7 linked regions of the Homo sapiens genome follow. The protein of the gene in region 3 purifies or fractionates together with the protein of the main gene of each other region. This does not show direct contact. Each region holds a gene or a part of one and is shown on either strand. Other genes may lie near its edges. The genes, in order: FBXL16, DCK, MAP2K3, PIGQ, DIMT1, CEP170 and SLC25A3.

Region 1 (3,500 bases), on a different chromosome or scaffold from region 3:
CAGTCACTCACGCTCAGCGAGGTGATGCGCGCGCTCAGGCTGGACCACAGCCCGGCCTCGGTGAAGTCGTTGCAGCCCGACAGCTCCAGACGCACCACGCCCTGCATCTGTTCAAGCATAACCTGCAGGCGGGCGGGCGCCGGGTCAGGATTGCAGGAGAAGGGGTGGAGCCCGCAGGGAGGAAGCAGTAGGGTGTAAACATGCAGGGAGCTGAACCCTGAAAACATTTGGCAGTGTGTGAGGAGGCGGGGCATCGGGACGAGAGCCCAGGGCCTGGCCAGGGCAGGTGCTGGGGGCGTTGGCACCAGCGTTACAATTAGACTCCAGACCCGGCTGCCAGGCGGCTCCTCTGACCTCTACTCCTGGGGGATCCTTTCCCAGCTGCCCCTCAGCTCCCCCTCGCATCCTCCCCACACTGCATTTGTATTTATTTATTTATTTATTTATTCATTCATTCATTCAATCATTTTGAGACAGAGCCTTACTCTGTTGCCCAGGTCCCAGGCTGGAGTGCAGTGGCATGATCTCAGCTCACTGTACCCCCCGCCTCCCGGGTTCAAGCGATTCTCCTGCCTCAGTGTCCTCCCAAGTAGCTGGGACTACAGGTGCCCACCACCAGGCCTGGCTAATTTCTGCATTTTTAATAGAAATAGAGTTTCACCATGTTGACCAGGCTGGTCATGAACGCCTAACCTCAAGTGAGTGGCCTGCCTCGGCCTCCCATAGTGCCGGGATGACAGGCTTGAGCCACCGGGCCTGGGCCCTGCATTTAATCCACTGCCCTGCTGCTGCCATCTTGAAAATCTTGAGTGTCTTTGAACAAGGGACCCACATTTTCGCTTTGCGCGAGGTCCCCTGTAGTCAGTCCTTCTTTCCTCCCACCCCAAAGCCACCATCCGCTCCCACCTCCATAGGGTTGCTGCTGCCCGCCCCTGCCCCCCAGCCCTGTCCCCCCCGAGCCTGGTGCACACCTCGAGGCCTGCGTCCGTGATGGTGGAGCGCTTGAGGCTCATGGCTTTGACACCCTTCTTGGAGAGCGCATAGTTGTCAATGAACTCACAGATGTCCAGGTCGGAGACGCCAACCAGGCAGAAGCCCTCGAAGCCTCTGGCGGCAAAACCCTGCAGGTTCACGAACTCCTTCTCGCCACCAGGCAGCACGTTGTAGAGCTCCTTGGCATGCAGCACCGGCGTGAGGCCTGCCCAGAACTTGGGCTGGTACAGCACGCGCCGCCAGGCCTTGCACACCTGGGCCAGCACACACTTCTCGCAGGCCGAGAAATACCAGAAGAGCCCATTGAGGATCTTCTCGTCCGTGGCCAGCGGCGGCCGCTCCGCTGGGTGCCCAGGTGCCAAGGCTGAGGCTGGTCCACCTGCCGGGGTGCACGGGCCCCCAGCCAGGGCAGCCCGGGACAGTGGAGCAGCCAGGCTGGGTGGTGGGAGGGTGGGTGGGGGTGGTGGCTGGCAGGGGCGGTTCTTGGTGGCTGGCGTGCCCTTGGTGATGCTGGCCGCACCCAGGCCGTTGGGCTGGCCCGGCAGCTTCACCAGACCGTTTCGAGGCAAGCATGGAGGCTTGGGGTCGCCGTCGATGCCCGGGCTCGACATCTTCCTGGCACGCTCTGTGGATGAGGGCCGGGAGGGGGAGTGAGTCTGTTGCTGAGTCTGGAAGGCCGGGGTTGGGGGCGGGTGCAGTGGGGCTCCTTCCCTCCTTGGGCGTCCCTATGGTGCTCCCAGAACCACCAGACAGAGAGGATGGGAGTGCCTGCTTCTCCCTCCCAGACTGTGAGCAGCAACAGGAAGCCAACCATGGCCACTGGCAGCACTCACTGGGCACCTACGGTATGCACTGAGCCCAACCTTCATTGCCCATGGACACCCTCTTTTTCTTTTGTTTTTTTTCTTTTTGAAACAGAGTTCCGGCCGGGCGCGGTGGCTCATGCCTGTAATCCCAGCACTTTGGGAGGCCGAGGCGGGTGGATCATGAGGTCAGGAGATCGAGACCATCCTGGCTAACACAGTGAAACACCATCTCTTCTAAAAATACAAAAAATTAGCTGGGCATGGTGGCAGGCGCCTGTAGTACCAGCTACTTGGGAGGCTGCAGCAGGAGAATGACGTGAACCCGGGAGGCGGAGCTTGCAGTGAGCCGAGATTGCGCCACTGCACTCCAGCCTGGGCAACTGAGCAAGACTCTGTCTCAAAAAAAAAAAAAAGAAACAGTTTCACTCTTGTTGCCTGGAGCGCAGACTGGAGTGCAGAGACAGGATCTTGGCTCCCCGCAACCTCTCTGCCTCGTAGGTTCAAGTGATTCTCCTGCCTCAGCCTCCCGTGTAGCTGGGAATTCGGGCGCCCACCACCACACCCGGCTAATTTTGTATTTTTAGTAGAGATGGGGTTTCTCCATGTTGGTCAGGCTGGTCTCAAACTCCTGACCTCAAGTGATCCACCCGCCTCAGCCTCCCAAAGTCCTGGGATTATGGGAATGAGCCACCGTGCCTGACCGGAAACCTTTTTGTTTGCCCAGTGAGGCGAAGAAACGCCGACACTTTTTAGCACTTAGGTACCATGATGGCCATTTTACAGAGAAGAAAATGGAGGTGGACCTGGTGAGGCCAGGACTGCTCTCTTGACCTCTCTGCTGTGCCGTCCACTGTAGGTACCCACCAGGCCCACCCCTCTGGGCAGGCCAGGGGAACTGAAGGGAAGGGTCTGGGGTGGCCTCTGGCCCCTCCCCTGCAGGGTGACTGCACAGCGCTCAGGAGGGGCTCTGGTGCTGACTCTGCAGCCACCCTCCACATGCACAGGAGCTTCCCTGGCTCAGAATCTACCCAAGGGGCTGGGTGCAGTGGCTGATGCCTGTAATTCTAGCACTTTGGGAGGCTGAGGTGGGTGGATTACAAGGTCAGGGGTTTGAGACCACCTGGCCAACATGGTGAAACCCCTTCTCTACTAAAAATACAAAAATTAGCCGGGCTTGGTGGCAGGCTCCTGTAATCCCAGCTACTTGGGAGGCTGAGGCAGGAGAATCACTTGAATCCAGGAGGCGGAGGTTGCAGCGAGCCGAGATCACACCACTGTACTCCAGCCTGGGGAACAGAGTGAGACTTTGTCTCAAAAAAAAAAAAAAAAAAAGAAAGAAAGAAAGAAAAAGAAAAAAAGAAAAGAAAAAGAAAAAAGAATCCATGCAAAGAAAGGGCGGGCATCTTCCCAGGGTGTGCTGTGGTGCCAGCATGGTTAGCCCTGGACACAAGCTGTCGCTTTAATCTTCTGCCCAATGAGAACGATGCTGTGATAGCTGTACCCACTGCACAGATGAGGAAACTGAGGCCAAGGCTGGGCAAACTGCCTGCCCGAGGTCATGGCCAGATAAGTGGTGAAGCCAAAGTTCGGGCAGAGCTGGCTGAGGAAGGCCATGCGGAGGTTATCTTCAGGCCAGCGACATCCACGCACAGGGTGGAGTGGGAGCAGTCCCGGGCACCCTCCTCAGGCCTCCAGTCTGTA
Region 2 (3,500 bases), on a different chromosome or scaffold from region 3:
TCATAAAAACTCTGAAGAAAACATAGGCAATACCATTCAGGACATAGGCATGAGCAAAGACTTCATGACTAAAACACCAAAAGCAGTGTTAACAAAAGCCAAAACTGACAAATGGGATCTAATTAAACTAAGGAGCTTCTGCACAGTAAAAGAAACTATCATCCAAGTAAACAGGCAACCTACAAAATGGGAGAAAATTTTTGCAATCTACCCATCAGACAAAGGGCTAATATCCAAAATCTACAAGGAACTTAAACAAATTTACAAGAAAAAAAAACAAACAACCCAATCAGAAAGTGGGCAAATGATATGAACAGACACTTTTCAAAAGAAGACATTTATGCAGCCAACAAACATGAAAAAAAGCTCATCATCACCAGTCATTAGAGAAATGCAAACCAAACCCACAATGAGATACCATCTCACACCAGTTAGAATGGTGATCATTAAAAAGTCAGGAAACAACAGATGCTGGAGAGGATGTGGAGAAATAGGAATGCTTTTACACTGTTAGTGGGAGTGTAAATTAGTTCAACCACTGTGGAAGATAGTGTGGCGATTCCTCAAGGATCTAGAACCAGAAATACCATTTGACCCAGCCATCCCATTACTGGGTATATACCCAAAGGATTATAAATTATTCTACCATAAAGACACATGCATATGTATGTTTACTCCAGCGCTATTCACAATAGCAAAGACTTGGAACCAACCCAAATGCCCATCAATGATAGACTGGATAAACAAAATGTGGCACATATACACCAAAGAATACTATGCAGCCATAATAAAAGAATGAGTTCATAACCTTTGCAGGGACATGGATGAAGCTGGAAACCATCAATCTCAGCAAGCTAACACAGGAACAGGAAACCAAACACCGCATGTTCTAACTTGTAAGTGGGAGTTGAACAATGAGAACACATGGGCACAGGGAGGGGAACATCACACACCAGGGCCTGTCGGTGGGGTAGGAGGCAAGGGAAGGGTTAGCATTAGGAGAAATACCTAATGTAGATGACGGGTTGACGGGTGCAGCAAACCACCATGGCATGTGTATATCTACATAACAAACCTGCACGTTCTGCACATGTATCCCAGAACTTAAAGGATAACAACAAAAAAAGAAATTTTTATGAAAAAGAAAACTTTTATACTTTACTTAAAGTGCATAAATCTTGAATGCATAGTTTGATAAATTTTACTTTCCTTTTTTTTTTTTTGTTGAGACAGTGTCTCATTCTGTCACCCAGGCTGGAGCACAGTGGCGCCATCTCAGCTCACTGCAACCTCCGCTGCCTGGGTTCAAGAAATTCTCCTACCTCGGCTTTACAAGCAGGTGGAATTCAGGTGCCCACCACCACGTTCAGCTAAGTTTTGTATTTTTAGTAGAGACGGCATTTCACCATGTTAACGAGGCTGGTCTTGAACTCCTCACCTCAAGTGATCCGCCCGCCTCAGCCTCCCAAAGTGCTGGGATTACAAGCGTGAGCCACCAACCCCGGCCTCAATGCATGTTTAAACATATAGTCACCCCTCAGTAACCTCAAGAATTGATTCCAGGTTCCACACAGATACCAACATCCACATATACTCAAGTCCTTTATGTAAAATGGTGTAGTATCTGCATATATCCTCCCAAATAGTATAAATCATCTCTAGATTACTTATAATACTTAATACAATGTAAATGCTATATGAACAGTAATCCTTTATTATTTGTATTTTTTTGTATTATTTCTTTCTGAATATTTTCTATTCATGATTGGTTGAATCCATATCAATCTGAAACCCATTGATATGGAGAGCCAACTGTATATATATCCATGTAACCACCACCTAGATGAAGATATATACCTAAAGCGAGATTTGAAAGTTTTATTGAAAAAGAAAAAGAAAAAGAGATTAAGTACTACTGCTCCTCTAAACCAAGAGGCTTTTATCTACTTAAATTTTATTTTCATACCTCAAATTCATCTTGAGTACTTTGAACATTGCACCATCTGGCAACAGGTTCAGGAACCACTTCCCAATCTTCACACAATTGTTTAAGGATATTCACAAATGTTGACTTCCCTGCAGCTGTTGTGAGGAAAGATAAAATTGAGGAAGAAAAGTTGTCAGGAAAAAAAGATGTCAAGTAGTCATTAGCTTTTGCAAGATTTACAATAGCAAGCAACATAAAAAGCCCAAAACATTCAACTTTCTAAACTTTCTCTTCATATTTCTTTAGAAGAAAATGAAAAGGCTCCCTGCCCAATTTCATTAAGCACATTTGTTTTTTATTACGTTTAGTTTAACAATATATTATATTTAATAGTAGGGACAGTCTTGACCTAGAAGTAATACTCCTAATGGCCACCACACCCTTTATATCTGAAGTCACCAAATGTGGTTGTATTAGACATCTCTGGTTAGCATAATGTTCTCTCTCTTTCCCTGTGTGTGCGTGCACACACACACAGATGAACATATAAATAACTTCAATATACTTACAAGCAAAGCTTCCTCTTCCTTATAAATTAGATCCATGGGGAGTAGAAAGAACTTACCTTTGACTTGCAGAACTATATTTAAATCTAGGACATTAGACAGGGCAATAGAAAAGAAGAAAAACCTGGAAGAACTTTAAAGAATTACACACAGAGAAAAAACAGGAGCGAGGCAGTAAAGAAGGTGACACAGGTAGACAGTTTAGAAGAAAAACACAAAGTAAACTGTATCCAGAGGAGAGGAGAAAAACTTTTAACGATAAACTGGATAACAGTGAGATTTAATCATGGTAAAAACACTGGCCACCAAAATTTAGTATGGAGAGTGTAAGCTTAGGGACTGTACAGCATTTAGAAGAATGTTAAGTGGAAGTGAAAGCATATAGAAAGAACACCCCACATTCACTGAGCTAGATGGAAGAGGGAAAGGAGAACATGATGTTCAGAAATAGCACCCAAGGAACAAATAAAAAAATTAGGCATCCACCAGAGTCTGAAAGCACTTAAGGCTACAGCATTCAACTTTCTTCTGACACTGCTTACAAGCAGAAAAATTCATATGGTCATACTTAAAAAGTCTAAGAGTAATAACAGTTACATTTAGTTCAAGCAGAGTAATAACAGCTAGAGTTCCCAATCACACTAACACATCTAGTTCCTTAACTTATTGGGGCAAAGTGGGAGCTAGAAAATAAGCTAATTAATAAATTAATTTTCTATGAAGGCAAAGGAGAACAAGAACCAAAGACACTGATGTTAATACTTTAAAAAGTCATGGAAACTAACAGAATTCCTAATGCCAAGCAGGCATTATAATGCTGAAAGTCATTCTGAACAGACTATTAAGATGAGAAGCAGGTAAGTCCTCCATCAATCTAACATAAGGGAACATTTGAGTAACACAGAACATAAGAAGATGGGTTATATAAATATAAAACTAAAACGACCAAGTAAAGTTCAAATTCTAGGAAAAATAGAGGAATTGCAAAATAGTTTACGCACAGCTTA
Region 3 (3,500 bases):
CACCTGCTTCAGCTGCTGGAACGGGGTCCCCCAGGACTCGTAAGGGAACCGCAGGATGGCCATCTCAATCTGCAGCGGGGACAGGGGGTCAGAGGCCCCGGCCCCAGATACAACCACGCTCTGCACCCAGGAGCGAGGGTTGGGGGCTCCCACCCATCCTGGTACCAGAGCCAGGCGTCAAAGCTGCACAGCTGATCTCCCTACCACATCCCAGCAGAACAAAGGCGAGAAAGCCGGGGATGCCAGCTCTTAGCTCCTCCGACCCAGCCAGCAGGACCCAGCTCAGGAAGCAGATTCAGCCCACACCGGGACTGGTGGGACCATCATAGGGTTTTCAGAAAACCTGAATTCTGAAGATTTTACAAAACAATGCAGGTTCCAGCTGCTCTGGAAAAATCTGAGGAGCTGGCAACTTTGGGCCGTAGCCTCATGAGCCAGGTGGGCAGGTCCCAGGTGGTCACAGCCAATCCCCTTCCTAACATCTGACCATCTCAGACTTCAGCATCTGCTGTCATTAATTTGGGCTGTTTTCACAGAGGAGGCACATGGGAAATGCTACACACACACACACACACACACACACACACACACACACACACACAGCTGTCTCCAAGGCCGCGGACAGAGTGTGAGACCATGAGGCTGCTTCGCCTCTGCACCCGTGAGCCTGCAGCCTCATCTTCTGCAGGGCCCCAGCAGTTTCCCTCCTAGACAAGTGGCCTGTGTGGCCACATGTGCCCTGCTGGATCCAGATTTCCTGTGGGTGACATCGGGCCGGTGGGTCTCTGTCCTCGCTCCAAGCTCCCAGCCCTGTGGTTGGCAGGAAGTCATCATGGAAGGGACGGACTAGCTAGCTTACAACCAACTCTGGGCTCCAATCATGATGACTGGATGGAAAAAACAAGTTATGTCAGCCCTGGCCCCGGCCTGGAAGAACAGAGAATTCCGAGGCTCCAGCACAAGGGCCCTCACTGCCGGCCGTCATCACCATGATGAACGGAAGAGACCTCAGCACAAACACTTGGCACTGGCAACTGGAGCCCGGACAAGACCCTAAGGACTGTGCTGAGACTGTGCCTCCCATCAGGCTAGAGGCCCTTTCCAGCTCAGACAAACACACCCACACAGGCAGGGCCCACTGCGTGTGTGTGCATGTGTGCATGCGTGTTCACAGGACAAAACCGTACCGATTTGGGGGGCTTTTCTCTTAGAATTTTCACTGACTGCAATATGTAGAGCAAGTACCCCATACGAGCTACAGGAGAAGGACCAGCGGCCATGAGAGTTATAATTAGAAAAGCAGAAGTGTCCAAACCTTCAACCTCGTACTCCTTTATTTTTTCTAAAGAGCTCAAAAAATGAAAAACAACAAAAATAGCCTCCAGACACGAAGATGTGCCATATGGTGTTTTCTGCCAGGAAATACTAAGAAACAGCCTGAATGTCCAGCGCCAGGGGCCGGCCCCACCATGGGGGCGGAGACCCAGCCAGGACCGTAGTCGCACCCCTGTGACTCCCCAGCGACAACACTAACAGGCCAGCACCCAGTCAGCACTTGCTCCTGGCCAAGGGCCATCCCCGGCATGACCCCTGTCTGTTCTGGGTGATTCCCACTGGCATCCTGAGGCTTGTGCAGTGAGTGGGAAAAAGCCAACGCCAAGAGAGCTCTGGGGCCCTTGCAGGATGGGGGGAGGCCGAGGCCAGAGCCCCACCCAGGGGGACTCTCCCGACTCTGTTTCATCAGTCGCTCCCCCAGGATGGCTGAGAATTTGAAATGGAAGGAAAACAGCAGGAACAAGGGAAACAACCCACATCAGCAGACAGGGTGACTGAATGGTGGCAGATGGTTATGGAGTCTTTGGAAGGGATACATACAGGAGTCTATTATAATTTAGAGAAATTGGCCAGGTGCGGTGGCTCACACCTATAATCCAAGCACTTTGGGAGGCCGAGGCAGGCAGATCACTTGAGGTCGGGGGTTCGAGACCAGTCTGACCAACATGGAGAAACCCCATCTCTACTAAAAACACAAAATTAGCTGGATGTGGTGGTGCACACCTGTAATCCCAGCTACTTGGGAGATTGAGTGAGGCAGGAGAATCACTTGAACCTAGGAGGCAGAGGTTGTGGTGAGCCGAGATTGCACCACTGCACTGCAGCCTGGGCACCAAGAGCAAAACTACATCTAAAAAAAAAAACAACAAAAAAAACAAAAAACAAAAAAAACAGAGAGAGAGAGACAAATATGAACAACATGTAATGCTACAAAATTTTTTTTAAAAAGTTTTTTAAAAAGAAGCATTACGAGGCCAGGCGCAGTGGCTCACACCTGTAATCCCAGCACTTTGGAAGGCCAAGGTGGGTGGATCACGAGTTTGAGACCTGCCTAGCCAATATGGTGAAACCCCATCTCTACTAAAAATACAAAAATTAGCCAGGCATGGTGGCGCACGCCTGTAGTCCCAGCTACTCGGGAGCCTGAGGCAGGAGAATCACTTGAACCTGGGAGGCGGAGGTTGCAGTAAGCCGAGATCGCACCACCGCGCTCCAGCATGGGTGACAGAGCGAGGCTCTGTTTCAACAACAAAAAAAGAGAAGCATTACATATTGTTTGTATTTCTCTAAATTTTAATAAAACGTATTTTATTATATGTAATAAAAATATTATATATATAATATAATGCACAATGTTGGCACTGAAACGGGGTAAGAGGTGTCTCTAGGTAGAATAACTACAGTCATTTTCCCCTTACTGTGCCTCTATTTTTATGTTAGGTTTCCACTACGTTTGTAACTTGTGAAAGAAAAACCTAACCTGTGCCTAAAGTGACCACCTCCGCCTCCCGCTGTGTGCACCTGCTGATCCTCCATTAAGCCGGGAGCATTCCCTGCCCTTGAACCTGGGCTGGCCTGTGACTCGCTGACCAACACAATGAGGCAGAAGTGATGCTGTGCCAGTTCCAGGCCTAGCACTTCAGAGAACTTCCTTTTAGATGCCAGCCATCATGAAAGAACTCCAACTCTGCTGACACTGCCATGCTCTGAAGCCCAGGGAGCAGGCCAATGTGAGTAAGTTGCATGGAGAGGCCAGGCAGAGGAGGCCCATGTTTGTGAGGCCGTCTTGGGCCTTCCAGACCAGCCCAGCCCAGCCATGACCCCAGCCAATCCCAGGTACAGCAGAAGAGCCATCCAGCTGAGCCCAGCCACAGTGGTGGAAACATGAGAAATAAGAAACCGCTGTTGGTTTGGGTCACTAGGTTCTAGGGTGGTTTGCTATGCAATATTTGATAACTGAAATATACACTTAGCACACACTTGTCCAAGTTCCACCAGCCATATCAGAAGGCCACTAGCCATGGTGGCCCCAACAATCATGATGGATGGACAACTGGAAGGGAGACAGGGAGATGGGGAAGGGACATAGGGTGTGTGTATGTGTGAGGTAGTCATGAGCAGGGTCTCTAATATCCAACCAGTTCTGTGCAGTCTAAATACAGCAA
Region 4 (3,500 bases), on a different chromosome or scaffold from region 3:
GGGGCTTTCTGTGTCTGAGGAAGGCGAGCGGCCCAGCCAGCCGGCCAGTAGTGCCCCCACCGCTAGGGAGTCCTCCTGCCCTGTGGGGCCCCGCCAGGGAAGGCATCAGTGGAGAAGGAGCCCCAGCTGGCTGCATGGCTCCGCAGGGGCCTGTGAGAAAGGGGGAGGAGAGGCCCAGGGCCTGGGAACCGCGGTAGCTCAGGTGGCTTCCTACTCAACAGCCACCTTGGAAGGCTGGTGTCCCTCAGCCTGAGAGTGCAGGATGCAGTTTCTCCACACCTCCGGGACCTGTAAGCCTCTCTCTCCCCGTTTCTAGGCACCCATGTCGTTGGAGAAATATATCCTGGAGAGAAAATGCTCCCTGAGGGAGCCCTGCCCTGGGGTGGCTGTGGGGATGTCAGGGAGGGCCAGGCACTGCCGGGTGCCACCGTGGGCGGGGGTCAGAGTGGAGGCCGAAGCCCTGTGTGCCCTGAGCAACGAGGCAGGTCCTTCCTGCCCCCAGGGAGGGGCTTGTGGGAGGCAGGGACCTTCTGGGGGGCTGCCCGCCGTGCGCACGAGGTAGTTTCCACAGCCCAGCAGCACATCATTTTACATTTTCATCTTTATTCTTGCTTAATACGTGAATCATGGTTTGTCAAGGTTTCAATTGGCGTGACCTTGCTAATGAGATTGTACAGTTCTCCTCGTGCTACACCTTTAAGCACACCTCTCTAATCAGGTTTCTTAAAACTAAGAAGCCTGGAGTTCGGTTCGGCCCCACAGCCGCGTCAGGTGGTGCCGAGGAGGCCGTGCCCTGGGCCGGCCTGGAAATGGGAGGGCAGGCCTGGTGGCTGCATGTGCGTCCTGCCTCGTGCGGGTGGGGCTGAGCTGGGCCTGGGGTGGACTTGGGGCCAGCACTCTGGCTGCCCCTTGGAGAAGCATGGCCCACGCGAGGCGGCAGCCAAGGAGCCCTACGGCGTCCACCACCGAACTTGAAGCTGAGGTGCCCCGACCTGGGGCCCTGTGGCTGCACCTGTCAGGCCGTCTGTGCAACATCCCGCAGCCCACGGTGGGGGGGCAGCAGCAGCTCTGAGCCGAGCCTCTCCTCTTCTCTTCCAGCCTCCCGGCATGGTGCTCAAGGCCTTCTTCCCCACGTGCTGCGTCTCGACGGACAGCGGGCTGCTGGTGGGACGGTGGGTGCCGGAGCAGAGCAGCGCCGTGGTCCTGGCGGTCCTGCACTTTCCCTTCATCCCCATCCAGGTCAAGCAGCTCCTGGCCCAGGTGCGGCAGGCCAGCCAGGTGGGCGTGGCCGTGCTGGGCACCTGGTGCCACTGCCGGCAGGAGCCCGAGGAGAGCCTGGGCCGCTTCCTGGAGAGCCTGGGTGCTGTCTTCCCCCATGAGCCCTGGCTGCGGCTGTGCCGGGAGAGAGGCGGCACGTTCTGGAGCTGCGAGGCCACCCACCGGCAAGCGCCCACTGCCCCCGGTGCCCCTGGTGAGGACCAGGTCATGCTCATCTTCTATGACCAGCGCCAGGTGTTGCTGTCACAGCTACACCTGCCCACCGTCCTGCCCGACCGCCAGGCTGGAGCCACCACTGCCAGCACGGGGGGCCTGGCTGCCGTCTTCGACACGGTAGCACGCAGTGAGGTGCTCTTCCGCAGTGACCGCTTTGATGAGGGCCCCGTGCGGCTGAGCCACTGGCAGTCGGAGGGCGTGGAGGCCAGCATCCTCGCGGAGCTGGCCAGGCGAGCCTCGGGACCCATTTGCCTGCTGTTGGCCAGCCTGCTGTCGCTGGTCTCAGCTGTCAGTGCCTGCCGGTAGGTGTCCCGGGACAGGCAGGTGGCAAAGAGTGGGGTCCCATGAGTGCTGGCCCATCCCTTTGTCTGCAGTGGGCACAGAGGCCCAGATGCGCTCTTCCTGGGCCCGGGCCCCCTCCCACTCCTGCAGCCCGGGCTTTGGCCCCATCCTGCTCTCCCAACCCTCGCCTCTCAGAGGGTGTCCCTCACCCCTGGGGTAGAGCCAGGTCTCTGGGCAGCCTCAGGGATTGCCAGGGGCCCTCCCAGAAGGTGTAGAGGGTGAACCTCAGTGGCTTAGGTCCCTGAAAGAGAAATCAGAAGGTGAGCACAGACATGACTACTGCTGCCTGGGGGTGCTCCTGAGGGCACACAGGCCCGCTGGCCTCCCTGTAGCCCTGCCTGTGCCCCCAGCAGGCCTCTGGACACTGCAGCGCTCATGGGCTGTGGGGGTGTCATCCACTTGCTGGCCCCGTGTGCCTGGGGGAGTGGTCTACAGGCCCTGCTTCTCTCCACAATCACAGGTGCTGCTGGCCAAGGGTCAGTTGAAGCCCAAGGGCCCTGAGGGGCACGGGGGTAGCCCCGAGCTGTGGCTGAGAACAGAGGGCCCCCTTCCACAGGGGACCTCATCTGCCTGGCGGAGGTGCCCCATGGGGAGCAGCTAGGGGTCACCTGCAGTTGCCCCCTGCCTTAGACCCGGGGGTGCATACTCTGGAAGCCTGGGGTGAGAAGCTAGGCCAGCCCAGGAGACCCCGGGCAGCTTTCTGGGCCCTGTCGGCGGGGCGAGGCCCTGGGCCCGTGGGAGTTGCTGCTGGCTGGCAGGCGCTTCTTGGCACCGGCTCTGGGAGCATGTGGTGACCAGGTGGCCCGGGGTCAGCACCTGCGAGGAGGCCAGGCTCCGTGTTAGTCACGTGCACTGTGAGGTGGGCGCGTTGAGCGCTGCCTACCACCACCTGGGCCACCGAGGGCCCCTCCCACCTGCCCCCTGTCCTGCTGAGCTCAGGAGTGTGGCCTGGGTGTTTGTGGTCCCCTGCACAGTGGGGGACGGTGGGAGGAGGATCTGGAGAGGGACACATCACTCCTCTCCACTCCCACGCAGAGTGTTCAAGCTCTGGCCCCTGTCCTTCCTCGGGAGCAAACTCTCCACGTGCGAACAGCTCCGGCACCGGCTGGAGCACCTCACGCTAATCTTCAGTACACGGAAGGCGGAGAACCCTGCCCAGCTGATGAGGTGTGGGCCTGCCCTGGTCTCTGCAGGGCTGGGTGCGTGCCCTCTGGCCCCTTCTCCATCCCCCTCTGCACCACGCTGACCCCTCCGGCCAGGCAGGCCTCCTCCTGCGGCCCCAGGCTGTGCTGGCCACCCTCATGCCGGCCGGGCCGGACCTCCCTTCCAGGAAGGCCAACACGGTGGCCTCTGTGCTGCTGGACGTGGCCCTGGGCCTCATGCTGCTGTCCTGGCTCCACGGGAGAAGCCGCATCGGGCATCTGGCCGACGCCCTCGTTCCTGTGGCTGACGTGAGTGGACTGGGGTGGAGCCCGGTGTCCCGGGTGGGCGTGGGGACCCCTCCTGGGCAGCAGAGCCTTCCCGGGCCAGAGCCACCGCCCCACAAAGCCAGTTCTACCTTCTCCATGCTCTGGAGACACGGCCCTCCCCTGAACCAGAAGCAGGAACTCCAGGGGCGCTGGGGCCTGGGCAGGGCAGGCCTCGCAGGTACACCCCCCTTTCCT
Region 5 (3,500 bases), on a different chromosome or scaffold from region 3:
GCCTGGACTTTTTTTTCCTTTATTGAATGAGCTAGTATTTTAACCTCACCTGAAAATTGATGGGTGGTGGTGGATTCTTAGGTTCTATCCTTACAACACTGGATTCCACCTTGGGCGGTGGTCTGAAGTTATTCTTTCCCACCTGTTAATGAAAAAGTATTTAAGTAGTACTCACAAAGGCAACTTTTATTTAGTAACCAGATATGCTATCCTCACAGAAGGCACAACTGGATGCTCAAGGATGAATTAAGCTAGATTATTTCAATAATAAAAATCACTGGCTGGGTGCTTTGGCTCACACCTGTAATCCCAACACTTTGGGAGGCCAAGGCAGATGGATCATTGAGCCCAGGAGTTCAAGACCAACCTGGGCAACATAGCAAAACTCTGTGTCTACAAAAAATACCAAAAAATTAGTCAGGCGTGGTGACGCACACCTCTAGTCCCAGCTACTCGGGACTCGAGAAGATTGCTTGAGTATGGGAGGCAGAGATCGCAGTGAGCCACTGCACTGCAGCCTGGGTGACAGAGTGAGATTCTATCTCAGAAAAAAGAGAAAGAAAACAAAATTCACTTACTTTCATTAGATGGTCCACACGTGCCAACAGCTGTGTATTAATTGAGAGTCTGCAGTATAACTTATCTCCAGGTTTTGCAACCAGTCGGAGGGCAAATTCTCTTTGAAACATAAGTATAGCACACCTGAAAAGAAAGCAGAAAGGAATAAGGAAAATGGTCATTGTCAACTATAAATGAATTTTAACTGCAATGAATTTTCTTGGGAGAGAAATAGCAAAGCATTGGCAGCTGATTATAAGGTAGGAGAACACATTCAGCCTTTTTTTTATTGCCACAGAATGAGAGAGCTGGCTTTGTTTTTATAATTGCTGTACTCCTCATGGCAAGATAGCTTGCAAATATAAGCCTTTAATGACTGGATGAGATGTTTCAAATCAGCACTAGTCCATCACCTCTTCTATGAAAACAAAGTGAAATAAAATTGTTTCAGTAGCAGTAATATATTTATGGGGTAGCAAACACCTTTAAGGAAGAGGTGAGACTGAAGAGGCAGATTGTGACGTTCAATGTTTCCTTGATTTGACGGGTTAAAAGATGTAGACTTTTTTTTTTTTTTTGAGACGGAGTTTCGCTCTTGTCGCCCAGGCTGGAGTGCAATGGCGCAATCTCGGCTCACTACAACTTCCGTCTCCCAGGTTCAAGTGATCCTCGTTCCTCAGCCTCCCGAGTAGCTGGGATTACAGGCGCACACTACCACCCCTGGCCAATTTTTCTATTTTTAGTAGAGACAGTGTTTCACCATGTTGGCCAGGCTGGTCTGGAACTCCTGACCTCAGGTGATCCGCCCACCTCAGCCTCCCAAAGTGCTGGGATTACAGGCATGAGTCACCACACCCAGCCAAAAGATGTAGACTTTTTATTCAGCAGGCAATGGGGAAGACTTTGTAGGGGTTAACGAACAGAAGAGTATCTTCAAAGCTACACTTTGACATTCAAACTTTTGACAATGAGTCACACTAAAAATACATTTGGCATTGCAAGCCAAGCCACAAATGTCTGTATGTATATGTGTTTATATTGTATTTCAAAACAAAAGTTTCATGAAACCATAATCACCTGGACTACATGCAATGCCCTGTGATATATTCTATTCCATGTGATTACAAAAAAAAAGAATGGTCATGACTCATTAATTTTATAACCACTAGTTTTTGACTTGCAGTTTGAAAGCCACTAGTATATAATATAGAAAGTGACTTCAAAGTTCATGGAAATATTGAATTAAAAGATAAAATAAGGCTGGTGTGGCGGCACACACCTATAATCCACAGCACTTTAGGAGGCCAAGGCGGACAGATCGCTTGAGCTCAGGAGTTCAAGACCAGCCTGGGCTGAACATGGTGAGACCCCTTCTCTAAAAAAAACACAAAAATTAGCTAGGCATGCTGGTACACCCCCATAGTCCCAGCTACTCAAGAGGCTGAGGTAGGAGAATCATCTGAGCCCAGCCCAGGGAGGCTGAGGTTGCAGTGACCTGAGATGTCACCACTGTACTCCAGCCTGTCTCAGAAAAAGAAAAAAAAGAAAAAACATAAACTTTATTATTCAACATAAGCTCCATCAAGTTCAAGACACTTTTGTAAGTGATGATACCAGCATTTTAGTCTATATCAAAAAAACTGAGGCTCTGGGGAATTTAGCCATGTCACTGCAGGTTTTTTTTTTTTACATTATTAACTGAAGAAAAAAGAGTGCCCTTTCAAGATTTTTTAAGACTGGGAAACGAAAATAAATCAGAAGGGCTGGGCACCATGGTTCATGCCTGTAATAATCCCAGCATTTGGGGAGGCTGAGGTGGGCAGATCACTTGAGCTCAGGAGGGGGAGACAGCCTGGGCAACATGGCAAGACCCATCTCTAAAAAAAATACAACAATTAGCTGGGTGTGGTGGCACATGCCCGTAATCGCAGCTACTTGGGAGGCTGAGGTGGGAGGAATGCTTGAGCCCAGGAAGTGGAGGCTGCAGTGAGTGCAGATCATACCACTGCTCTCCAGCCCGGGCACCAGAGCAAGACTGTCTCATAAAATAAAAAGAAGTCAGAAGGGGCCCAATCAGGACTGTAAGGTGGATACCTAACCATTTCCCATTGAAACTCTCGAAAAATTGCCCTCGTCTGATGAGAGGAAGGAGTAGAAGTATTATGGTGGAGGAATCTCTGGGGAAGCTTTCCCAGGAGTTACTCTGCTACATCTTAGCTAACTTTCTCAAAACACTCTTGTAATAAGCAGATGTTTTCATTCTTTGGTCCTAAAGAAAGTCAGCAAGCAAAATGCCCTGAGCATTCAAAAAAAAACTGTTGCTATGACCTTTGCTCTTGACTGGTCTGCTTTTGCTTTGACTGGAGCCACTCCGTTTCTTGGTAGGCATCACTTTCACTCTGCTTTGTCTTTAGGATCACACTGGTAAAGCCATATTTCATCTCCATTACAATTCTTTGTAATTCTTTGAAGAAATGTTTCAGGATCTTGTTTTCTTTTTTGACAATCTCGCTCTGTTGCCCAGGCTGGAGTGTGGAGTGCAGTGGCACAATCTTGGCTCACTACAACCTCCGCCTCCTGAGTTCAAGCGATTCCCCTGCCTCAGCCTCCCGAGTAGCTGGGATTATAGGTGCCCACCACAATGCCCAGCTAATTTTTTTATTTTTAGTAGAGATGGGGTTTCACCATGTTAGCCAGGCTGGTCTCCTGACCTCAAGTGATCTGCCCGCCTCGGCCTCCCAGAGTGCTAGGATTATAGGTGTGAGCCACTCCACCCAGCCATGTTTCAGGATCTTGATCCCAGTTATGTAAAATTTCCACTGGAAGCTCTGCTTTTATCTGCAGCTGATTTGAGTACAATGTTTTTTGTTTTGTTTTTTCATAAAATCTTTCAGAAAAGAGGGTATGACAGTTTTGGCATCTATCAAGTACAAAGTTTGTTT
Region 6 (3,500 bases), on a different chromosome or scaffold from region 3:
TTGATATACTACATTATACGTCAAAAATAAATAAATAAAATTAAGAAGACAGGGATTCCAAGATTGTAGCTGACCAAGCTGTCTTGTTTTGCGTACATCAACACTATGCTGCTTCCAATATTCCTAGCCATTCCACAGGTAATGATTTTTCAACAATCAAGAGAAAGTCATTCTTGTACTGTAACATCTTCCTCTTCCCCATCGGGGTTGAATCTATTGAAATGTATACTGAAATCAGCCTCAGATTCAGCATTCTCAAATTCAGCTGCGGCTGAAACAGCAGCAGGATGAAGAGCCCTAGCTTCTGGTTGGCCAAGTGTTGGTGTCTGACCCGGGCTGTGGTGGTTATTCACAGGGCTGGACTTCTGTTTCGGTGGAGATGGCAACATAGCACTGGGAAATCCCATGTTGTTCAGAGCCTCCAAAGTTCCATCAGGATCAATCATAGCATTGATTGCTAAAGGGCGGGAAAAGGAAATAATTTTAGATGCAGTTACATTCACATATAAACACTGTTCATGATTTGGATAATATTTAAACTATCAGTGCGTATGTGATCTTAAATGTGGCTAATCTTCCAATATTATATTTAAAACTCCATTCTTAGTTATTCTGTAGCTGTACTGTAAATCACCCAGCCCTGAATACTTTCTCTGGGTCCTTTGATGTGGCACTTACGGGCATTTCAGAGACTTGTAAGTCTGGTATTTGAAGATGTGGAATTCAAGAAAAATCTTGTTGAAATTTGTCTTCATTATTGTGAGAGGACCGAGAAAATACTGAATATGATTTTTAATAAACATCTAAACCCACATCACTCAGATAACTGAGGTATTAGCTGCTAAGTCAGGGTTCAGAGTAACCTCAAGGCTGGAGAGGCCAGAAGAACATCAGCATACTTTGAATGCTACCATAGAATACGGTCATTTAGCCTGGCCAGAGTGCTAGGGTTATCAGCTGTATACACCACTGAGATACAGGGGTTCCCTCAGAGCCTACAGACTAATATCACAGGGCAGCTTGCAAAGCCAAACAGACTTGCTGCCTATATGGAAGGGGTCAGTTAAAGGTCAGCTTTCAGTCCAAAAGATCTTTGGGTTGACATGGAAAGTTCTCAGGCGGTGATTTTCAATTTGGCATTGGGCAGAGTAGGGAGTTGGGAGAAGGAAGTAACATAGATGTAAGAATCATGTAGAAGGGACTTTTAAAAGTATACCCCCAGTCTACCAGCTAACAAGCACTGTGTTAGCAAGCCACTTTTACTCATGGGGTGTACCATAACCCTTAGGTGTGTTGGGGCTAAATAAAGATGAAAAATCATTTTGATAGGATCCACATAAGTACCTATGATTATTCGATAGATAAAGACTCAGTAGAATTAGCAGTTGACTATGGAACCTGCCTGTTGTACCACTGGGGACTTCTGGGTCAAGACATACATAGGCATTAATGCACAGCCCAGCTCTGACAAGTTTAGAGGGCAGCCTCTTTCACTTTCTTCTCTCCTTTCTCTTCTGGTCTCTATGGCCAATATGTACTCATTTCTTGTCAACCAAACAACTATTATTTCTATTAGAATGTAAGTTTGTTTCAGGTTACACCACCAACATAATTTAAGAACTGTCAAATCACACAAATAATGCTAATTAACACAACTTTATTATATATTTTTCACATATTATTTATATGTAATACATAAAAAATTTCAATTAGTTTATGACATCTAGCCTACTGTCAAACCTATGAACTAAAATATGCCCAACATATATCTTTATTACATTTTAAATTTTTATACTGGGTTTAAAAAAATTCCTTTTTATGAATAATGTGAATGTTTGAACTCTGTATTTTATGTATGTCATTACATTTAATCAAATAACATCCTAACAATATTTTAAGAAATACCACTCAGAAGGCACTTATTCTAAATTATTAGCTCTTTATACTTAATTCAGTAGTAAATTTACCTTGCAGCTGCTTTTCTACTCTTTTCAGTTCCTGTAAGATAGAAGAAATCTCCTGCAGGGAAAGCAATAACAAAAATTAGCCTACTTTTAGCTAAATGTTATCACTTTACAAGCAATGAATTTCACTCTCACTTTATTTGGAACACTTAATATTATCTACATGGTACTTACTACATTAATAGCAACATGATATGAAATAATTATGATATCTAGCAAACAAGATTCAAATTAAAATATTTAAACTAAAATGAAATACAATAACTTTTTCAGTGAGATGATTGTAGCAGATGAAAAGTTTAACATTTACTACTATTTAAGCAAAGATTTTTTTTTTTTGAGACCGAGTCTCACTCTGTCGCCCAGACTGGAGTGCAATGGCGCAATCTTGGCTCACTGTAACCTCCTCCTCCCAGGTTCAAGTAATTCTCTTGCCTCAGCCCCCAAAGGAGTTGGGATGATAGGCGCCCGCCACAATGCCTGGCTAATTTTTGTATTTTTAGTAAAGACAGAGTTTCGCCATATTGGCCAGGCTGGTCTTCAACTCCTGACCTCAAGTGATCCGCCCTCCTTGGCCTCACAAAGTGCTGGGATTATAGGCGTGAGCCACAGTACCCGGCCGCAAAGATTTTTAAAATTCTTATTAATCAACCTTGCAATAACTATGTAAAAATGCCTTCAAATTATCTTTGTAAAAACATATAAACTGCAACCTCAATATTATAATTATATTCTGAGCAATGAAAATCTGTACAAATTCTTTTAAAAAGAAGATAAGCATTATATTAAGTAAACGGAAACGACTTATGTCAACTTAATATTTTCATGTTAGATTTGGTTCTCTTTAAAAATTTCATGTTTCTAATGTTTAATTATTACAAGAACAATCTATACTAGTAAGAAACACAAAAGGCTCCTCCTTCATACCCTCTGCAACTTTGAAACAATCAACATTTTAAACCTGTGAGTCAGTAGAAGAAATAAAATTTCCCAAAATTTTGCATTTATATCTTCTTTTGAAAAAGCAAATCAACGAACAGCTCAAAAATAAGGGTCTTTTCCTTAAAATAAAACTCTATTAAAATGTTTTAATCTTCAAGAAAAATTACTATACCATGCTTGAGGTTTTCACAATAGGGACTTCACTTTCGGCTCTTAATTTGCTTTCTATGTCATCCCAATTCCGATCTTTGTCTTTAAATAATATTCTATAAATCAAAAAACATAAGCATATAACTTTTTATATTTTAAAAACCTATTACTTTTTTGTTAATAATACCAAAGCAATGTATCTTTTCAAAGGTACACAAAGAAAAAAAACCAACCACCGCATAAACTGAGAATTAAAATACTAAGCCAACAGTACCAATTAATTCATGTGTATGAGCTCCAATTGAATGCTTATTAATACATGCATAAATTCTTTACTGTTTATCTTATTCTTTATTGAAAACAAAATATAAAACAAATGTAAATGATGTTATGACCTCAAAACTTTAATATTTATAATTTACAATACAGTAATGCCCTCTTATC
Region 7 (3,500 bases), on a different chromosome or scaffold from region 3:
AGTTATATCTATTATCTAGACAGTAGCTTTTAAAAAGTAGGAGGTGGGCCAAGCATGGTCGCCCACACCTGGAATGCCAGCATTTTGGGTAGCCGAAGCAGGTGGGTCACTTGAGGTCAGGAGTTCGAGATCAGAACTCAATCTAGCCAACATGGTGAAACCTCATCTCTGCTAAAAATACAAAAATTAGCTGGGCATGGTGGCGTGCCTGTAGTCGCAGCTACTCGGGAGGCTGAGGCAGGAGAATCGCTTGAACCTGGGAGGTGGAGGTTGCAGTGAGCTGAGATCACACCATGGCACTCCATCCTGGGCTACAGAGCAAGACTCAAAAAACAAACAAACAAAAAACACAAAAAAAGTAGTAGGAGTTGGGTGGTAAGAAATCTGTTAAGAATCAGTTTTGTTACGTATTTTTGTTGAAATTTTACCCTCTTAACTATCACTCCAAGACTTAAGTTTGACACAGAAAGCTTTTGTTGAAATTTTACCCTCTTAACTATCACTCCAAGACTTAGGTTTGACACAGAAAGCTAGACCTTAATGTACAACAGTTTCTATTTATAAAAGTAATCAAATGAACAATAATAAACAGTGATAAGCATAAACTAATAAAAGTTATATGAATGTAGTTCCTCACTCAAAATATCTTAATATTTTCAGATGTCAGTTGACCTTGGATAACTGAAGCCACAGAAAATGAACTCTTGGATAAGGGAGAGCTACTGTATTTCTTTTTTTTTTTTTGAGATGGAGTCTTGCTCTGCTGCCCAGGCTGGAGTGTAGTGGTGCCATCGTGGCTCACTGCAACCTCCACCTCCCTCCCTCAGGCTCAAGCGATTGTTCTGTCTCACCCTCACCCTCCCGAGTAGCTGGGATTACAGGTGCACGCCACCATGCCCGTCCAATTTTTTGTATTTTAGTAGAGATGGGGTTTCACTGTGTTGCCCAGGCTGGTCTTGAACTCCTGAGCTCAGGTAATCCACCTGCCTCAGCCTCCCAAAGTGCTGGGATTACAGATGTGAGCCACCGTGCCTGGCAGGAATTACTGTAGTTACCTTTTGTGTAGTTGCTGAAATTTATTATGGAACCCAAACAAAAATAATCATGAGATTAAATTTTTATGTTAGCTGTTTGGTGCATTTAATTTTTTTTTTCTTGTTTTAAATAAAGGTGGACCCCCAAAAGTACAAGGGCATATTTAACGGATTCTCAGTTACACTTAAAGAGGATGGTGTTCGTGGTTTGGCTAAAGGATGGGCTCCGACTTTCCTTGGCTACTCCATGCAGGGACTCTGCAAGTTTGGCTTTTATGAAGTCTTTAAAGTCTTGTATAGCAATATGCTTGGAGAGGTATGTAATTAACTTTAAAATTGAATGTTCCGAGTGTTTAAGACTTTCCGAGTGTTCTTAGATTTTTGTCTGTCTTGCCTTATTTTAGCACTGAAGAAAATGGTCCTACAAAGTGAGCAACTTGTTTTAAATCGTATGCCTGTGTCAGCAGAGACAGGTTGATAAATGTATTTCATTAAATTACAATTCTCCTTTTAATATACTATCTTGTTTTCTAAGTAAGTTGGATTTTGAGTTTTTTAGAGAAGGGCTCTGGGACTCCTTTGCGTAGTTCCGGGGCATGGCATCTAGATATTTTTTGAATATTCATGTTGTTCACATAGTTACGTGTTTTGTTAATGAGGTTATGAGACCACATATATATTCCATATCATCGTGTGTTACTTTATAAAATGTCTGAAGCTTAGTTGTTTTCTAGAACTGTCACTTCAATTGAAAACCAACACAACAGCAATTCACATCCCTTCCTTGTGTTTTGGATTTTAGGAGAATACTTATCTCTGGCGCACATCACTATATTTGGCTGCCTCTGCCAGTGCTGAATTCTTTGCTGACATTGCCCTGGCTCCTATGGAAGCTGCTAAGGTTCGAATTCAAACCCAGCCAGGTTATGCCAACACTTTGAGGGATGCAGCTCCCAAAATGTATAAGGAAGAAGGCCTAAAAGCGTAAGTAAACACTTAAAAATTTATACTATGAAAGTACTTATTTTAAGTGAACTTCATTTTTTTTTGTTTTTTTTTTTGTTTTGTTTTTTTGAGACAAAGTCTCGCTCTGTCACCCAGGCTGGAGTGCAGTGGCGTGATCTCGGCTCACTGCAAGCTCCGCCTCCCGGGTTCACGCCATTCTCCTGCCTCAGCCTCCCAAGTAGCTGGGACTACAGGCGCCTGCCACTGCGCCCAGCTAATTTTTTGTATTTTTCAGTATAGACGGAGTTTCACCGTCTCCATCTCCTGACCTCATGATCCGCCCACCTTGGCCTCCCAAAATGCTGGGATTACAGGTGTGAGCCACCGCACCCGGCTTCTTTTTTTTTTTTCTTTGAGACGGAGTTTTGCTCTTGTTGTCCAGGCTGGAGTGCAATGGCACTATCTCAGCTCACTGCAACCTCCGCCTCCCAGGTTCAAGTGATTGTCCTGCCTCAGCCTGCTGAATAGCTGGGATTACAGGCATGCACCACCACGCCTGGCTAATTTTGTATTTTTAGTAGAGACTCCATGTTGGTCAGGCTGGTCTCGAACTCCTGACCTCAGGTGATCCACCCGCCTCGGCCTCCCAAAGTGCTGGGATTACAGGCGTGAGACACCGCGTCTGGCTGTGAACTTCATTTTTTAGTATTAAGCCTACCAGACTTTTTAAAAAGACTATTATAACATTTAATGTCTATTTACCTGTATGTAGAACATAAACTTGAGAGGTAAAGATAAGTTAATACATGGTTTGAGCCCTGGACTGAGTTTTTTTTTTTTCCCTAGAGTAAGGACCATTTGTCGGTCTACAAATGACTTGATGTTTGGCCTAAACATTTACTATTAACTTTTAGGGAGGGCTTGTTAGTATCCTTGTGATCTATTCACAGTTAAGAATTTCCATGACCACAACATGCTTCCTTAGATCCACCTTTGTGGATGAATCTTGAACTGAGTTCCACTTGTAAACTTCTTGTTTCTTGTGGTTCCAGTAGTCAAAGAAACATCCAGCAACTTTTTTGGTTGTATAGTCAAAGGTGCTTGAGTCATTGGCATGTAAGAGAAATATACCTGCATGTTAGTCTAACGTTCTGATAGAAATGACATGCATTTATGCTGCCATTTGTTACTATCAGGACTCGACTCGTGTGCGGACATTTCTGTTAATAATGACAGTCTCTGATAGATGAGTGTATGCAACTGTGTAAAACAAGTCTCTTGATTTCCTAGATTCTACAAGGGGGTTGCTCCTCTCTGGATGAGACAGATACCATACACCATGATGAAGTTCGCCTGCTTTGAACGTACTGTTGAAGCACTGTACAAGTTTGTGGTTCCTAAGCCCCGCAGTGAATGTTCAAAGCCAGAGCAGCTGGTTGTAACATTTGTAGCAGGTTACATAGGTACGAATTACTTAGAACACACTTGTCTGAAATTATGAACAAATAATCATTTCCATTA

The links.
Region 1: the proteins of MAP2K3 (region 3) and FBXL16 purify together in Homo sapiens (co-immunoprecipitation; one large-scale study listed by IntAct). This does not show direct contact.
Region 2: the proteins of MAP2K3 (region 3) and DCK purify together in Homo sapiens (affinity purification with mass spectrometry, with the first as the bait; one large-scale study listed by BioGRID). This does not show direct contact.
Region 4: the proteins of MAP2K3 (region 3) and PIGQ purify together in Homo sapiens (affinity purification with mass spectrometry, with the first as the bait; one large-scale study listed by BioGRID). This does not show direct contact.
Region 5: the proteins of MAP2K3 (region 3) and DIMT1 purify together in Homo sapiens (affinity purification with mass spectrometry, with the first as the bait; one large-scale study listed by BioGRID). This does not show direct contact.
Region 6: the proteins of MAP2K3 (region 3) and CEP170 purify together in Homo sapiens (affinity purification with mass spectrometry, with the first as the bait; one large-scale study listed by BioGRID). This does not show direct contact.
Region 7: the proteins of MAP2K3 (region 3) and SLC25A3 purify together in Homo sapiens (affinity purification with mass spectrometry; one large-scale study listed by BioGRID and IntAct). This does not show direct contact.

What each region holds. Positions count from the first base shown.
Region 1 is NC_000016.10:695,802-699,301, forward strand, and holds part of FBXL16 (F-box/LRR-repeat protein 16), read right to left. Parts: intron 1,619-3,500; 5' UTR 1,605-1,618; coding exon 972-1,604; intron 123-971; coding exon 1-122. UniProt on the Homo sapiens protein: Substrate-recognition component of the SCF (SKP1-CUL1-F-box protein)-type E3 ubiquitin ligase complex.
Region 2 is NC_000004.12:70,996,649-71,000,148, reverse strand, and holds part of DCK (deoxycytidine kinase), read right to left. Parts: intron 2,083-3,500; coding exon 1,967-2,082; intron 1-1,966. UniProt on the Homo sapiens protein: Phosphorylates the deoxyribonucleosides deoxycytidine, deoxyguanosine and deoxyadenosine. Has broad substrate specificity, and does not display selectivity based on the chirality of the substrate.
Region 3 is NC_000017.11:21,308,711-21,312,210, reverse strand, and holds part of MAP2K3 (dual specificity mitogen-activated protein kinase kinase 3), read right to left. Parts: intron 70-3,500; coding exon 1-69. UniProt on the Homo sapiens protein: Dual specificity kinase. Is activated by cytokines and environmental stress in vivo. Catalyzes the concomitant phosphorylation of a threonine and a tyrosine residue in the MAP kinase p38.
Region 4 is NC_000016.10:572,968-576,467, forward strand, and holds part of PIGQ (phosphatidylinositol N-acetylglucosaminyltransferase subunit Q), read left to right. Parts: intron 1-1,098; 5' UTR 1,099-1,107; coding exon 1,108-1,796; intron 1,797-2,871; coding exon 2,872-3,003; intron 3,004-3,166; coding exon 3,167-3,287; intron 3,288-3,500. UniProt on the Homo sapiens protein: Part of the glycosylphosphatidylinositol-N-acetylglucosaminyltransferase (GPI-GnT) complex that catalyzes the transfer of N-acetylglucosamine from UDP-N-acetylglucosamine to phosphatidylinositol and participates in the first step of GPI biosynthesis.
Region 5 is NC_000005.10:62,393,906-62,397,405, forward strand, and holds part of DIMT1 (dimethyladenosine transferase), read right to left. Parts: intron 703-3,500; coding exon 579-702; intron 143-578; coding exon 50-142; intron 1-49. UniProt on the Homo sapiens protein: Specifically dimethylates two adjacent adenosines in the loop of a conserved hairpin near the 3'-end of 18S rRNA in the 40S particle.
Region 6 is NC_000001.11:243,126,282-243,129,781, forward strand, and holds part of CEP170 (centrosomal protein of 170 kDa), read right to left. Parts: intron 3,173-3,500; coding exon 3,079-3,172; intron 2,020-3,078; coding exon 1,968-2,019; intron 458-1,967; coding exon 168-457; 3' UTR 1-167.
Region 7 is NC_000012.12:98,596,686-98,600,185, forward strand, and holds part of SLC25A3 (solute carrier family 25 member 3 isoform b precursor), read left to right. Parts: intron 1-1,170; coding exon 1,171-1,350; intron 1,351-1,836; coding exon 1,837-2,018; intron 2,019-2,949; exon of another isoform or gene 2,950-3,199; intron 3,200-3,269; coding exon 3,270-3,442; intron 3,443-3,500. UniProt on the Homo sapiens protein: Inorganic ion transporter that transports phosphate or copper ions across the mitochondrial inner membrane into the matrix compartment. Mediates proton-coupled symport of phosphate ions necessary for mitochondrial oxidative phosphorylation of ADP to ATP.